2 linked regions of the Homo sapiens genome follow. The main gene of each other region encodes a partner of the protein of the gene in region 2 in a complex. Each region holds a gene or a part of one and is shown on either strand. Other genes may lie near its edges.

Evidence for each region.
Region 1: the proteins of HDAC1 (region 2) and RBL1 are in contact, whole or in part, in a crystal structure (PDB 7SME), measured with the Homo sapiens proteins. Residues at the interface, in NP_004955.2 of Homo sapiens: Ile414, Ala415, Cys416, Glu418, Glu419, Phe420, Ser421, Asp422; in NP_002886.2 of Homo sapiens: Tyr849, Ile850, Lys853, Val854, Thr860, Phe861, Gln862, Met865, Lys866, Tyr879, Arg880, Asp929, Leu930, Ile931, Tyr934, Asn935, Val939, Lys943, Leu947.

What each region holds. Positions count from the first base shown.
Region 1 is NC_000020.11:37,029,589-37,038,137, forward strand, and holds part of RBL1 (retinoblastoma-like protein 1), read right to left. Parts: intron 5,921-8,549; coding exon 5,654-5,920; intron 3,289-5,653; coding exon 3,077-3,288; intron 1-3,076. UniProt on the Homo sapiens protein: Key regulator of entry into cell division. Directly involved in heterochromatin formation by maintaining overall chromatin structure and, in particular, that of constitutive heterochromatin by stabilizing histone methylation.
Region 2 is NC_000001.11:32,315,353-32,323,901, reverse strand, and holds part of HDAC1 (histone deacetylase 1), read right to left. Parts: intron 7,238-8,549; coding exon 7,120-7,237; intron 1-7,119. UniProt on the Homo sapiens protein: Histone deacetylase that catalyzes the deacetylation of lysine residues on the N-terminal part of the core histones (H2A, H2B, H3 and H4).

The sequences.
Region 1 (8,549 bases), on a different chromosome or scaffold from region 2:
GCTAGAGCAATAAGGCAGGAAAAAGAAATCCAAATTGCAAAGAAAGAAGTAAAATTATCTTTGTTCACAGATGACATAATCTTGTGTATGGAAAACTCAAAAAACCTAAAGAATCCATAAAAACTGATAGAATTAATAAACAAATCAGCAAAGCTGCAAGAAAATCAATACAACAACATCTCTTGTGTTCCTTTACATTAATGAACAATCTAAAAAATGAAATTAAGACAATTCTACTTACTTATTACTTACAATAGCATCAAAAAGAATACTTAGGAATAATCTTAAGCAAGGACTTGTCTTGCAAAAGACATATACAGAAAACTACAAAATGTTGCTGAAAGAAATTAAAGAAGACGCAAATGAAAAGACATCCTATGATCATGGACTGGAAGACTTGACATTCTTAAGATGTCAACACTAGCCAATGCGATCTCCATATTCAATGCAATCTCTGTCAAAATTCCACAATGTTTTTGCAGAAAGAGAAAAATCCATCCTAAAACTCATACAGACTCTCAAGAAATCTTAAATAGCTAAAACAATCTTAAGAAAGAAAAACAAAGTTGGAGGTCTCACACCTCCTGATTTTAAAACTTATGACACAAAGCTATGGTTATCAAAACAGTGTGGTACTGAATACAGATAGACATATAGTCCAATGAATAGAATAGAGAGCCCAGAATTAAACCCCCATATCTATGCTCAAGTGACTTTTCAACAAGGATTCTAAGCTCATTCAATGGGAAAGGGCAGTCTTTCAACAAATCGTGCTGGGAAAAATGGATATCCATGTGCAAAAGAATGACTTTAGACCCTTATCTAACACCATATACAAAAATTAAAATGGGCTGGGCGTGGTGGCTCACGGCTGTAATCCCAGCACTTTGGGAGGCTGAGGTGGGCAGATCACTTAAGCTCACGAGTTGAGACCAGCCTGGGCAACATGGTGAAACCCCGTCTCTACAAAAAAGTTCAAAAACAGGCCCGGCGTGGTGGCTCACACCTGTAATCCCAGCACTTTGGGAGGCCAAGGTGGGTGGATCACCTGAGGTCAGTAGTTTGAAACCAGCCAAACCAGCACGGTGAAACCTCGTCTCTACTAAAAATACAAAAATTAGCCAGGCGTGGTGGCATATTCCTGTAGTCCCAGCTACTCAGGAGGCTGAGAAAGGAGAATTGCTTGAACCCGGGAGGCAGGGGTTGCAGTGAGCCGAGATTGCGCTACTGCACTCCAGCCTGGGCAACAGAGTGAGACTCTGTCTCAAAAAAAAAAAAAACAAAAACAAAAAACCCAAAAAACGAAAATTAGCTGGGCATGGTGGCACATGCCTGTAGTCCTAGCTGCTCAGAGGGTCGAGGTGGGAGGATCATCTGAACCTGGGAGGCGGAGGCTGCAGTGAGCTGTGACTGCGTGACTGCACTCCAGCCTGGGTGATAAAGTGAGACTCTGTCTCAAAAAAAAATAGACATAATAAATATAAGAGCTAAAAACTATAAAACTCTTAGACGAAAACATAGGGGAAAAGTTTTATAATACTGGATTTGGCAATGATTTCTTGTGTATGACACCAAAAGCACAGACAAAAAATGAAAAGAATAAATTGACTTTATTAAGATTAAAAACTTTCATGTGTCAAGAACACTATCAACGGAATGAAAAGGCAACCCACAGAATGGGAGAAAATACTTGTAAATAGTATATTTTATAGGAGATTAATATCTAGAATACATAAAGAACTCCTACAATTTAACAAAAACAAAACCCAAAACTCATAATTAAAAAAATGGGCAAAAGACTCGAATAGACATTTCTATAATGAAGATATATAGATGGGCAAAAGCACATGAAAAGATACTCAATATTACTAATCATTAGGGAAATGAAAATTGAAACTATAGTAAGATGTCTCTTTATACCCATTGGATGGCCATTATCAAAAAAACAAACAAACCAGAAAACACGAAACGTTGGCAACGATGAGAAGAACTTGGAACACTTGTGCCTTGCTAGTGGTAATGTAAAATGGTCCACCCACTGTGGAAAATGGTACGGTGGTTCCTCAGAAAATGAAATACTAAATTACTCTCCCATTTCTGGGAATATACCCAAAGGAATTGAAAGCAGAGACTTGAATAGATATTTGTTGCTATTTTTTTTTCTTCTTAAGACAGGGCCTCGTTCTGTTGCCCAGGCTGGAGCGCAGTGGTGTGATCTCGACTCACTGTAGCCTCAACCTCCTGGGCTCATGTGATCCTCCCACCTCAGCCTCCAAAATAGCCAAGACTATAGGCATCTGCCACCATACCTGGCTGCTTTTTTTTTTTTTTTTTTTTAAAATAGAGATAGGGTCTCACTGTGTCGCCCAGGGTGGTCTCAAACCCCTGGGTTCAAGTGATCCTCCTGCCTCGGCCTCATAAAGTGCTGGGTTTACAGGCATGAGCAACCACGCCTGGTTTGAACAGACACCTGTACACAAATGTTCATAGCAGCATAACTCACAATAGCCAAAAGGTAGAAGCAACCCAAATGCCCATCAGCAGATGAATGAATAAACAAAATGTGGTATTAAAAAAAAGTATATTCATATGATGGAATATTTTTTCTTTTGTTCTTTTTTTCTCTTCTTCATACAATGGAATATTATTCAGCCTTGAAAAGGAAGGAAATTCTGGCACAAGCTATAATATGAATGAACCTAGAAGACATTACGCTAAGCCAGTCACAAAAACAAACAAATATCGTATGACTTCACTCATAGGAAGAACCTAGAGTAGTCAAATTCACAGAAACAGAAAGTAGAATAGTAGTTGCCAGAAGCTGGGGAAAGGGAGAAATGGATACAGAATTTCAGAATGGGAAGACGAAAAAGTTCTGGAGATAGACGGTAGTAATAAAGCTGCACAACAATGTGAATGTATTTAATACCATTGAACTGTACACTTAAAAATGGTTAAAATGGTAAATTTTGTGTTATGTATATTAGAAAAAAAAAAGACCAAAGTCTGTCTCTGTTACTCAATCTTTCTTCCATTGATTAAACAAATTCTTCTAAAGTGCTATAAAAACACATACCTTTCTGTAAAATAGTGCTAAGGACCCAGTTCTCTTTGGCCTGTTTATTCCAGTTGAATGTACCTCTTGTGCTTTAGTCAGATTGGTCTGTTTTGGAGAAGCACCAATTAATGAATGAGCAGTAAGTGATACAGGACTCTTGACTTTGGACTCCTGATTTGTATTCATGGAAAGAGGTATCAGTGTGATCTCTCCAGCATCATTTGCGACACCTGAATGTATAAGCATTATTAGAAATAATCTGCATATGTTCTAGGAAAGTTGTCAACTATATATATTTTGACAATTATATATACATATATCTGTGTGTATAAGAAGGCTACAAAATAGTAATTCTAGGTTATGACTGAATTCTTTTTTTTTTTTTTTTTGAGACAGGGTCTCACTTGGTCACTCAGGCTGGAGTGCAGTGGCGCCATCTCAGCTCACTGTGGCCTCGACCTCCTGGGCTCAAGTGATCCTCCCATTTCAACCCCCGCAAATAGCTGAGACTACAGGTGCAAGCCACTATGCCTGGTAAATTTTTTTTTTTTTTTTTTGAGATGGAGTCTTGCTCTGTCGCCCAGGCTGGAGTGCAGTGGCGTGATCTCGGCTCACTGCAACCTCTGCCTCCCGGGTTCAATTCTCCTGCCTTAGCCTCCTGAGTAGCTGGAACTACAGGCACATGCTACCACACCCGGCTAATTTTTAAAATATTTTTAGTAGACACAGGGTTTCACCATGTTAGCCAGGATGGTCTCGATCTCCTGACCTCATGATCTGCCCTCCTCGGCCTCCCAAAGTGCTGGGATTACAGGAGTGAGCTACTGTGCCCGGCTTGTATTTTTTTTTTAGAGATGGGAGTTTTGCCATGTTGCCCAGGTTAGTCTCGAACTCGTCAGCTCAAGCCATCTGCCTGCCTTGGCCTCCCAAAATGCTAGGATTACAGGCATGAGCCACTGCAGCTGGACTTTTTTTTTTTTTTTTTGAGACAGTCTCACTCTGTCACCCAGGTGGGAGTGCAGTGGCCTCATCTTGGCTCACTGAGACCTCTGCCTCCCAGGTTCAAGCAATTCTCCTGCCTCAGCCTCCTGAATAGTTGGGACTACAGGCATGCGCCACCACACCCGGCTAATGTTTTTTCTCTATTTTTAGTAGAGACGGGGTTTCACCACGTTGGCCAGGCTGGTCTCAAACTCCTGACCTCAAGTGATCCACCTGCCTCAGCCTCCCAAAGTGCTGGGATTATAGGTGTGAGCCACTGTGCCTGGCGCCCCCCGGGCCCCCTTTTTTTTTTCTTTTTCTTTTTTTTTTTGACAATGTCTTGCTCTGTTGTCCTGGCTGGAGTACAGTAGCGTGATCATGGCTCACTGTAGCCTCAAATTCCTGGGCTCAAGTGATTCTCCTGCCTCAGCCTCCTAAGTAGCTGGGACCATAGGCATACATCACCATGCCCAGCTAATTTAATTTTTTGTAGAGATAGGATATTGCTATGTTGCCCAGTCTGGGTCTCAAACTCCTGGGCTAAAGTGATCCTCTTGCCTTGGTCTCCCAAAGTGCTGGGATTACAGGTGAAAGCTACCATGCCCCGCATAAATCCTTATTTTCTAGAAACAAGAATATTCGGTTTTGTTTTTATACTTTAAATTTATGGAAAAAAAAGCAAATTTTGTTCTCTATTTTGTATTTGCCTGGGATACATTTATAGTTTAAATTTATTGGAAAAAAAAGCATTTTTTTTTTTAACATTTTGAGCACTTGAGCTGTTAGTCAAAAAACAGAATTTTTGCTCAATACATACATATTGGAAAGCTCAGATAAGAACATTTTAAAAGTAGTTTGAGACCTGGGCAACATGGTAAAACCTCATCTGTACCACAAATAGAAAAAATTAGCTGGGAGTGGTGGCACTTGCCTGTGGTCCCAGCTACTCAGGAGGCTGAGGTGGGACGATCACTTGAGCCTGGGAGCAGAGGTTGCAGTGAGATGAGATCATGCTGCTGTACTCCAATGTGGGTGACAGAGTGAGATCCTGTCTCAAAAAATAAAAAAAGAAGAAAAGAAAAAGTAAAATAAGTCTAAACAAACAGAGAGGGTAGTAAATTTATAAAATTTAAAAATAAAAAAAAAACCACTATAGGTTCAAAACAAAAAGGTGGGGCACAGAGGATTTATAGGGCAGTGAAACTACTCTGTATGGAGCTATAGTGACAGATACATGTCATTATACGTTCTCAAAATCAATAAACTATTCACCAAGAGTGAACCCTAATGTAAACTATGGGCATTGGGTAATGTGTCAGTAATGTAGGTTCATCAACTGTAACAAATGTAGCATTCTGGTGTGGAATACTGATAATGAGGGAGGCTTTATATGCCTCTGGTTGGGGAAGGGGGACTATGAGAAATGTCTGTACCTTCCTCTGAATTTTGCTGTGAATCTACAACTGCTCTAAAAAATTCAAATCTATTTAAAAAAAAAAAGTATAGGTTCAAGAAAAAATAATGAGTTAGAAAAACCATGTGATCTAATCCACTAAGACATTTCTTAAATTTTTATCTCAGAAAAAGTACAAAACAAATGCACTATAACGTTACCATGTAATGGAATTGTAACTTTATGTCCTGTTGTTCCTGTTACTGGGGCTGTGGCCATTGTTAGAAGAGTTTGACCAGGTAAAATTGATACATTTTCAGCAGTAATGCTTGAAGAAGGAGCGATTTTCAATTTTGTTCCTTCTGTTATGATCTTGTCCATAAGCATTTCCTTTGGGGGGTCCTCTCCAAAGAGTCTTCTCTTAGCACTCCCTGCGGTAGGAGAACTGTAGCGTTCATGGACAGAAATTGGAGACAATGGTTGCATATCTAAAAAAAAATAATAAATTTAAAACAGAAATGTATTCCAAAATAATAAATTAGGTTTACTCATTCACTCAACAGATAGTGAGTTACTTATGCTGGGCACTAGCTAGATATGAATAACATGGCCTTTGCCCTCATGGAATATGTAGTCTACTGGGAGAAAGAGGCATGAAATAAGTCACTACGATAAAACGTGAAAATTATGATCACTCATCTTCCTGGTTTCTTGAACCTCTGCCTACATTAAAGGAGCAAAACATTAAGGACAAAGTAGAGGTTGAGAGGTAGAATGAAGTGAGCACTAAATTTTAGTAGTAGTCCAATATCTCCCAATCTTACCTAGTAGAGAGCACCTGAGAAGAAGGGAAGCAAAAGCAAAAATCAGGAATTTGGGTCACAGTTTTGCCTCTTTGTGAATATTTGCACTCCAAGCAGTTTAAGGCGGTAGCTCTGGCTTTCTAATTTAGTAGATATGGAATCATCTTTAGTAAATCTATCAGAAGATATGAGTAAAGATGATATAAATCTGCTTACCTTGCCTTAATCTGAGGGTTGGCAGTACTGTGTTGATCAAAAATAAAGTAAGGATTATGGATTTTGCCTCTCTTCCTGTGCTATCCTTTCACAGGATCTGCTTTCCATTCCCTCTCTACCAGCTGCACGGGTTTTTCTAGCCCCTTACAACCCTACATCTTTTCTACATCTTTTTTCACAATTCTTCCCTCAACCAATTATTCCTTACAGGTAGGTCAATAATATGCTTTTAAAACAAAAGTATTTATTTATTTATGAGATGGAGTCTTGCTCTGTCACCCAGGCTGGAGTGCAGTGGCACGATTTTGGCCTACTGTGACCTCTGCCTCTTGGGTTCAAGCGATTCTCCTGCCTCAGCCTCCCAAGTAGCTGGGACTACAGGCATGTGCCACCATGCCTGGCTAATTTTTCTATTTTTAGTAGAGACAGGGTTTTGCCATGTTGGCCAGGCTGGTCTTGAACTCCTGACCTCAGGTGATCCACCTGCCTCATTTGGGATTACAAGCTTCAGCCACCGTGCCCGGCCTTCATTATTTATTTTTACATTCACTAGATAATTAGATAGTCATGTAATCTATTTTCTTTTCTTTTTTTTTTTTTTTTTGAGATGGAGTCTCGCTCTGTTGCCCAGGCTGGAGTGCAGTGGTATGATCTCAGCTCACTGCAAGCTCCGCCTCCCAGGTTCACGCCATTCTCCTGCCTCAGCCTCCTGAGTAGCTGGAACTACAGGCAACCGCCACCATGCCCGGCTAATTTTTTGTATTTTTAGTAGAGATGGGGTTTCACCGTGTTAGCCAGGATGGTCTCGATCTCCTGACCTCGTGATCTGCCCGCCTCGGCCTCCCAAAGTGCTGGGATTACAGGCGTGAGCCACTGCGCCTGGCCCTGTAATCTATTTTCAAAACATGTTCAAAAGGTATGAAAATGACCCCTGGCAATGATTTAGAAGCTCTCTGTATTAGTGAGGTGATTGGGAAAATAGTTATAGTTTAATAAAAATCTCCGTAATTCTTGGGCTTATGAAAGCAGCTTTTACTTCTCCTGTCTTCAGTAAACAAGTGCAAATTTCTATAGTTGTTTCCATTACTCTTTTACAAGAGTCCATGTGAATGCCTTATATCTAAGAAATCCACGCAAGCCCTTGAATCTGACTAGGCATGTTTAAAGGTGACATTTCAAGGCAAGACTCGAGTTGAAGCCATAAAGTTAGCTGCAAATCCATTGAAATGATCTTTTCTTAGCACAGTACTGGAACAGCTATGGTGGATGCTCAATAAGAATGTAATGAATATACAAATGTAAAGCGGATCCAAATTTAGAAACATGACAATCTGTCAAGGTACAGAAAAGATGCTCACTTAGTTATAAATTATATGAGAGGAAGGTGGCAAGCACAGTTTAAACTATTCTTGCTAAGTTTTTAAAAAAGAAAATAATTCTCAATATTTCGTAAGTTTTAAATTATAGTATACTAAATATTTTTACTATTTTTTCATTTCTCTAAACATTAATAACTGACAGAAAGAAGAGCCTTTTTTTTAACATTTTGACAAGATTCGTAAAGATCAAAAAACAATTATAATAATTATAATTATTCCCACTGATTAAAATGACTGAGTATTCACATCTTATGCAATCTTGTTTTTTTTTTTTGGAGACGGAGTCTCACTCTGTCGACCAGGCTGGAGTGCAGTGGCACAATCTCGGCTCACTGCAACCTCCGCCTCCTGGGTTCAAGCAATTCTCTTGCCTCACTCTTGCCTCAGCCTCCCAAGTAGCTGGGACTATAGGCGCATGCTGCCATGCTTGCCTAATTTTTTGTATTTTACTAGGGACCAGTTTTCACTGTGTTGCCCGGGCTGGTCTTGAACTCCTGACCTCGTGATCTGCCCGCCTCGGCCTCCCAAAGTGCTAGGATTACGGGTGTAAGCCACTGCGCCCGGCCATTGTTTTTTTTTTTTTTTTTTTTTTGAGATGCAGTCTTGCTCTGTCCCCAGGCTGGAGTACAGTGGTGCGATCTCCGCTCACTGCAAACTCCATCCCTTGGGTTCAAGCAATTCTACTGCCTTAGCTGCCTGAGCAGCTGGGATTACAGGTG
Region 2 (8,549 bases):
TTTCTTGAGGGAGAAAAACTTATCCTCTGGCCCTCACGCCAGCTGACAAACAAGGGGCAAGAACAGAGACCCAGAGAACTATCGTTCACTGCGCACGTACAACACGCCAGACACTGCGCTACATGCGTTAAATACCCGAGATCATTCATCTTCACACAAGCTTCTGAGGTAAGATTTGGTCCCATCTTATAAGTAGGGAAACAAGGCCTGGCACAGTGGCTCACACCTGTAATCCCAGCACTTCGGGAGGCTAAGGCAGGAGGACCACTTGAGGCCAGGAGTTCAAGACCAGCCTGGGCAACATGGAGAAACCCCATCTCTACCAAAAACATAAAAATTAGCCAGGTGTGGTGGCAGCTGCCTGTAATCCCGGCTACTTGGGAGGCTGAGGCACAAGAACCACTTGAACCCGGGAGGCAGAGGTTGCAGTGAGCTGAGATCGCGCAACTGCACTCCAGCCTGGGCGAGACAAGAGTGAGACCCTGTCTCAAAAAAATAAATAAATAAATAAGTAGGGAAACAGGTTCAGAGAGGTGAGCTGTTAGTAAATGGCAGAAGCAGTATGCAAGCCTCAAGCTTTGGTTTGTCTGTTTTTTTTTTGAGACGGAGTTTTGCTCTTGTTGCCCAGGCTGGAGTATAGTGAAGTGATCTTGGCTCACTGTAATCTCTGCCCTCCAGTTTCAAGCCATTCTCCTGCCTCAGCCTCCCGAGTAGCTGGGATTACAGGTACCTGCCACCACACCTGGCTGATTTCCGCATTCTTAGTAGAGACGGGGTTTCACCATGTTGGCCAGGCTGGTCTCAAACTCCTGACCCTGTGATCCGCCCGCCTCGGCCTCCCAAAGTGCTGGGATTACAGGCATAAGCCACCGTGCCCAGCCAGCCTGTCTGTCTTAAAAGCCTGTGAAAATATATCCCGGCCCTTTTCCAAGTCCTTTCACATATACAACCTCATTTGATCCTCACAACAACTCTATGAGCTGGACAAGCCAGATATCAACCCCACTGTGCGGAGGAACAAACAGATACCGAGAAGTTAAGTGATTTGCCCAAGGTTATAAAACCAGGCAGTAGCAGAACCAGAATCAGGGTCCCGGTGTCTTGACTCCCGTAGCCCAGTGTCTTACTGCTACATTCACAGTGACAAGTGGAGTAAAGTTATTTCGGGCCTAATGGGGTAAAAGTACCAAGTAGTACATAATGTGGAAACATATGCAAACAATAAGGCAAATGAAATGAAAACAGGAAGGAAAGCACACCTGGAGGCTGTAGACTCACAGACCTAGAGGAACTTTATAGCTCCAAATCTCCTCTTACAGAAAAGGTAACTACTGGCCGGGCGCGGTGGCTCACACCTGTAATCCCAGCACTTTGGGAGGCCAAGGCAGGTGGATCACTTGAGGTCACGAGTTCAAGACTAGCCTGGCCAACATGGAGAAACCCCGTCTCTACTAAAAATACAAAAATTAGCCAGGCATGTGCCTGTAATCCCAGCTACTCAGGAGGCTGAGGCAGGAGAATCACTTGAACCCAAAACGTGGAGGTTGCAGTGAGCCAAGATTGCACCCCTGCATTCCAGCCTGGGTGACAGGGCGAGACTCCATCTCAGGAGAAAAAAAAAAAAAAAGTAACTGCTGAGACATCAATGAGCTACAGGAAGTCAGAGGCAGGAGGTGTGGGGCTGCATACTTATTCTCTTGCCCAGCCTTCTACTGTACCCACTGTTATCAAGATTTCCAAAAGTAGAGGAAGGAGCAGCCCTGGGGTGAGAGCAGAAGAGCTCAGTTTGGATTGTGCTGGTAAAATCTCAAGACACAGTTGAAGCTCAAGATCTACAATAACCACAAGAGTTACCAGCTCTGGTTCTGCACTAAACTTGGAGGGTGCCAAGATCCGGTGCTCTGAGGAAGAAGCATGGCTGCATGAGGGAGTGTGCAGCGGGTGGGTCTCTTCCTCACTTCCTGGGTAAACACTGGGAGGCTGTGTAAATAAGAACTTTGGTCCCTGGGCCCCGGCTGTTTATCCATTGGCAACTGATTTCCCTCTCTGGCCACTTCCTCCTGCACAGAGTTTGGCCTGCCTGCGTTTCCAAAGCTTTGTTTATACTCTTATTTGGGATATGGAGCCTCCATGGGAAGGAATGGGTGTTTTGGACGTGAGAAAAAAAAAAATATTTTTCTTCAGGCACCAAACCAACATGTAGCTCAAATGACCAGCCCTTTTATTCCTAGTCAATAAGCTATGTGATTAGAGATGGAAAGGGGGCAAATGGAAGAGCAGATACTCATGTGAGCTAATCTGTGAGGGTAGGGAAGACTTTTCCATGGGTTTTCTCTCTTTCTGCTATAAACGCTTTTCTCATTCTCACACTAGCTTTAGACTAAAGGGAAGCAATACTGGGTGAGAGGTGGAAGCAGACGTAGGCAGAGAAGGCAGTCAAATGCTCATTGCAAAGAGATGGGAAGATTAAACACTAACCTCAGGATAGTGCTTATACCTTGGCAGTGCTGGTAATGGGGTGGGGGGCTGGGGGAGTGGGAGAGAAAGGGTATGTGATCAAGGAAAGATGCCCAAGGGGGCATCAACTGTATTGATAATGTTTTCTTTCTCAGGCTGGGTATTGGGCACACATGGATGTTCATTATATTATTATTATTATTTTTTTTTTTTTGAGACAGAGTCTTGCTCTGTTGCCCAGCCTGGAGTGCAGTGGCGCAATGTCAGCTCACTGCAAGCTCCGCCTCCTGGGTTCACACCATTCTCCTGCCTCAGCCTCCCAAGTAGCTGGGACTACAGGCACCCACCACCACACCCGGCTAATTTTTTGTATTTTTAGTAGAGATGGGGTTTCACTGTGTTAGCCAGGATGGTCTTGATCTCCTGACCTCGTGATCTGCCCGCCTCGGCCTCCCAAAGTGCATTATATTATTTTTTGATGCTTTTTGTGTGTGTCTAAAATATGTTTTTTTCTTTTTCTGTTTTTTTTTTTTTTTTTTTTTTTTGAGATGGAGTCTTGCTCTGTCGCCCAGGCTGGAGTGCAGTGGCGCGATCTTGGCTCACTGCAACCTCTGCCCTCCAGGTTCAAACAATTCTCATGCCTCAGCCTCCCGAGTAGCTGGGATTACAGGCATATACCACCACACATGGCTAATTTTTGTACTTTTGGTGGAGACAGGGTTTCACCACGCTGGCCAGGCTGGTCTCAAACTCCTGGCCTCAAGTGATCCACCTGCCTCAGCCTCCCAAAGTGCTGGGATTACAGGCATGAGCTACCCTGCCTGGCCTGTGTATCTAAAATATTTTATATACACTATATTTTTTAAAACTACAGAATTGGGGGACTAGAGTTCCATTCTGCATTCTACCATCACCTTGCTGTGTGACTGGGAAAGTTTACATGTCTGTAAAATGGATGAGAATGTCTCCCAATTTTTTACCAATCCCTTTTATCATGTTTTCACCAAAAGCCCCCTAAATGCATTTATTTGTGTTCCCATTTTCACTTGCTAAATATTAGGTCAGAACTTCTGGTCAAGGCTCTCAAAGTGACCAGAAAGGGTTTATTACATTTCAGCCACAAGCAAGGAAACCTGATTTACTCGATCTTATCATAAGCATAACTTCCTAGATTAGGTGTGTGGGATGTTTTTGTGTGTGTGTGGGTTTTTTTTTTTTTCTTTTTGAGAAGGAGTCTCGCTCTGTCGCCCAAGCTGGAGTACAGTGGCGTGATCTCGGCTCACTGCAAGCTCCGCCTGTCGGGTTCACACCATTCTGGTGCCTCAGCCTCCCGAGTAGCTGGGACCACAAGCGCCTGCCACCACGTCCGGCTAATTTTTTGTAAATTTTTAGTGGAGACGGGGTTTCACCGTGTTAGCCAGGATGGTGTCTCGATGTACTGACCTCGTGATCCGCCCACCTCGGCCTCCCAAAGTGCTGGGATTACAGGCATGAGCCACCACGCCTGGCCATGTGTGTTTTTTTTTTATTGAGACGAGTTCTTGCTATGTTGCCCAGGCTGGAGTGTGGTGGCGAAATGAGACCATACCTCAATGCAGCCCTGAACTGGGCTCAAGGGATCCTCCTGCCTCAGGCTCCTGAGTAGCCAGAATCACAGGCATGTGCCACCATACACAACTAATTTTTTATTTTTATTTTTTTAAGATAAAATAAGAGATGGGGGTCTCACTATGCTGCCCAGGCTGGTCTTGAACTCCTGGCCTCAAGCTATCCCTCCTGCCTTGCCCTTCAAAGCACTGGCATTACAGGTGCATGCTACCATGTCCAGCGCCTAGGTTAGATATTGGTACATATTCTAAAAGGGCAAGTTAAGGATTAAGGAATTTGAGGCTGCAGTGAGCTATGATCTTGCCACTGTACTGTACCCTGGATGACAAAGCAAGACCCCATCTCTAAAAACAAGAATAAAAATAAAAATAATTCTTTTTTTAAAAAGGGCTCATTACTGTCTTGGTAGATACCCCAGGTTATAAAGCACTGTGTTAAGTGACATCTAAAGTCTCTGTCTACTCTGACCCTCCATAACCCTACAAATCAACTCAGTGAGGTACTCTGAAGTTCTTAGAGAGGCTTATTCTTCCTGCCCCCATTTCTGATGACAGAAAAATCCAAGACCTAATTATTTTAATTAGAAAAATTTTTTTTAGAGACCAGGTCTCACTATATTACCCAGACTGGCCTTGAACTCCTGGGCTCAAGAAATCTTCCTGCTTCAGCCTCCTAAGTAGCTGAGACTATAGGCACCCAGACTGAATTTTTTTTTTTTGAGACGGAGTCTCGCTCTGTCGCCCAGGCTGGAGTGCAGTGGCGCGATCTTGGCTCACTGCAACCTCTGCCTCCTGGGTTCAAGCAATTCTCCTGCCTCAGCCTCCTGAGTAGCTGGAATTACAGGCATGTACCACCAAACCAAGCTAATTTTTGTATTTTTAGTAGAGATGGGGTTTCACTATGTTGGCCAGGCTGGTCTCAAACTCCCGACCCCAGGTGATCTGCTTGCCTCAGCCTCCCAAACTGCTGGGATTACAGGCGTAAGCCACCACACCCAGCCAGACTGAATTTTTTAATGTACAACTTTAGAATGCTGGATTCGGAAAAATTGGCGCACCAGAGCAGAACCTGCACACTCCTCAGGGCATAGCATTTTGTCTGCCTTGATAAGTTTGTAAATAATAAAAATAGTAAGTCATAATAGCAAAAGTGATTATGCAATAGCAAAAATAGCAAAAGCAATTCATTGAGGGTAGACATATTATATATATTTAAATATATTATCTTCACTTATTCCCCCATCCTTGACTATGAAATAGGCACTAATGTCTTTTTTTTTTTGGTCTCGCTCTGTTGCCCAGGCTGGAGTGCAGTAGTACAATCATGGCTCACTGCAGCCTCGACCTTCCAGGCTCAAAAGATCCTCCCTCCTCAACCTCCTGAGTAGCTGGGACCACAGGTGTGCACCGCCATGCCCAGCTAATTTTTTTATTTTTTTGTAGAGATGAGGGTCTCACTATGTTGCCCAGGCTGGTCTCAAACTCCTGGCTGGGCTCAAGCAATCCTCCCACCTTGGGCTCCCAAAGTGCTAGGATTACAGGCATGAACCGCTGTGCCTGTCCTGTCTTCCTCTTAAAGAGGGAAAACAGGTCGGGCACAGTGGCTCAGGCCTATAATCCCAGCACTTGGGGAAGCCGAGGCTGGCATATCACCTGAGGTCGGGAGTTTGAGACCAGCCTGACTAACATGGAGAAACCTAAAAATACAAAATTAGCCGGGCGTGGTGGCACATCCCTGTAATCCCAGCTACTCAGGAGGCTGAGGCAGGATAATCGCTTGAAGCCGGGAGACGGAGGTTGTGGTGAGTAGAGATCGCCCCATTGCACTCCAGCCTGGGCAACAAGAGCGAAACTCTGTCTCAAAAAAAAGTGGCAGGGGCGGGAAATAACACCAGAGGGGCTAGGAAACCAAGGATTCAAACTAAGACATGAAAGCTTATTTTCTTACTTTAATAGCAAGTTGCTCCTCTAGTGAGAGCCCACTGTGCTGAGAGTAGAGCCTGATCCTTGGCCTAAATGGGTTATGGAAACCTCTAAAGCCATCTACAGGAAAGGCATGAATTTGCCTCATCTTGGAGGGAAATAAGACCCTGCAATTCAGAGAGCAAACACCTCACTCACAGCAGCTGGCAGCTCCTGGAGTTGTCGGTAGCAAAGAAGCTTAATGCTTCAAGGAAGGTCTCTGTGGTTCTGCCATCAATACCACTGTACAGTTATTATTAGTTGTAATAATAGTTATAAATAACTTTCTTCCTTGGGAGTAAGACTACCTTGTGGTCAGCAGCAACAAACAAGTGCCGCATATTTTCTGACACTTCCATATAAGCTGTCATAAGTTAATCAAAACTTCTTCTGGACAGTGCTGTTATACTATATGAAGTCTTAGGTGCTAAGAGATAATTTCTAAAATAACACAAGGGGGAAGTCAGGTATGATAGTTTTGTCCCAAATTTGAATACTTTTTTTTTCCCCCTCACAGCTAAAATAATTCCCACGATTCCTACAAACTAAGCGTGGCTTCCAAGATGGGACCTGCTCTGAAGTTCAAGTCCAAGGGATCAGGGGCAGCATCACCTCATCTCAAAGATTACACCATCTAGAATCTGTCCTGAGTGGCCTCTAAATTCTCAATTAATACCCACTAAGTCAAAACAGTTACAGTTGGACAGAAATCAGAGATCATGTGGCCCAGCCCACTTTACAAAAGAAGAATCTGAGGGGAAGTGACTTGCCCACTCAGCTGAGAGTTAGAGTTAAATTTTACTGTATCTATTGTCTCCCCGTCCCAGGTCAGTGCTTTTTCCACTACAATAATTACAGTACTCTTGGGACAGTGTTGTGAACATAACCAGAAAAAGTACTACCTCTATCGTTTACAAATCAGGAAACATGAAAAATCCGACTTGAGGGGAAAAAGCACTCTGGCACCTTTAGGAGGTAGGGGAAATCAGGTGTCCACTGAATGGGAGGTGCGAGGACGGCAGAATGGGCCTCTACAGTGGAAAGGGAGATGCAACTGGCGGCTTCAGAGTGTGAGGGAACAGAATGGACTTACATCTCTGCATCTGCTTGCTGTACTCCGACATGTTATCTGGACGGATGGAGCGCAAGAATTTAATGTAGTCATCGCTGTGGTACTTGGTCATCTCCTCAGCATTGGCTTTGTGAGGGCGCTAGAGGGCAGAAGGGAGAAAGGGCAAGTTATTTTTGACCACGGCCAGTCCAGTCAATCTAGTTTGAATATTTATATTTCCTGCGCAGCATGGAGCTAGGTGCTATAAAGAATAAAAAGAAATAACTGGTTAGATTCAGGCTTCAAGAAATTTACAATCTAACTAGGCAAACAAGATTATCAAAGGAGACAGAGTATCAGAAGACCTACAGCAGCTCAAGCTCTGTTGCTTAGGCAAGTTACTGTCTCTTGAACCTCCATTTCCTCATTTACTAAACAGGGACAACATAGACCACACAGGGAAGTTGAGAGAATTGGAAGAGGTTGTTAAATCTCTTTGTAAACTGTAAGGTGCTTTACAAAATTATTACTTTTTTTTTTTGAGACGGAGTCTCGCTCTGTCTCCCAGGCTAGAGTGCAGTGGCGCAATCTCGGCTCACTGCAAGCTCCGCCTCCCGGCTTCACGCCATTCTCCTGCCTCAGCCTTCCAAGTAGCTGGGACTACAGACGCCCACCACCACGCCCGGCTAATTTTTTTTGTATTTTTAGTAGAGACAGGGTTTCACCGTGTTAGCTAGGATGGTCTTGATCTCCTGACCTCGTGATCCGCCCGCCTCGGCCTTCCAAAGTGCTGAGATTACAGGCATGAGCCACCAAGCCCGACCTTTTTTTTCGTTTTTTTTTGTTTGTTTGTTTGTTTTGAGGCGGAGTCTCACTCTGTCACCCAGGCTGGAGTGCAATGGCATGATCTCGACTCACTGCAACCTTCGCCTCCTGGGTTCAAGCGATTCTCCTGCCTCAGCCTCCCGAGTAGTTGGGATTACAGGCGCCCACCACGACGCTGGCTAATTTTTGTATTTTTAGTAGAGATGGGGTTTTACCATGTTGGTCAGGATGGTCTCGAACTCCTGACCTCAGGTGATCCGCCCTCCTCGGCCTCCCAAAGTGCTGGATTACAGGCATGAGCCACTGCGCCCGGCCTACAAAATTATTACTTATTATTATATAAAACTGGCCGAGTGCAGTGGCTCACGCCTGTAATCCCAGCACTTTGGGAGGCTGAGGCGGGTGGATCACCTGAGGTTAGAAGTTCGAGACCATCCTGACCAATATGATGAAATCTGGTCTCTACTAAAAATACAAAAATTAGCTGGACGTGGTGGCATGCACCTGTAATCCCAACTACTCAGGAGGCTGAGACAGGAGAATCGCTTGAACCTGGGAGGTGGAGGTTGCAGTGAGCTGAGATTGTGCCACTGCACTCCATCCTGGGCAACAAGAGTGAAACTTCCTCTCAAAAAAATAAATTAAAA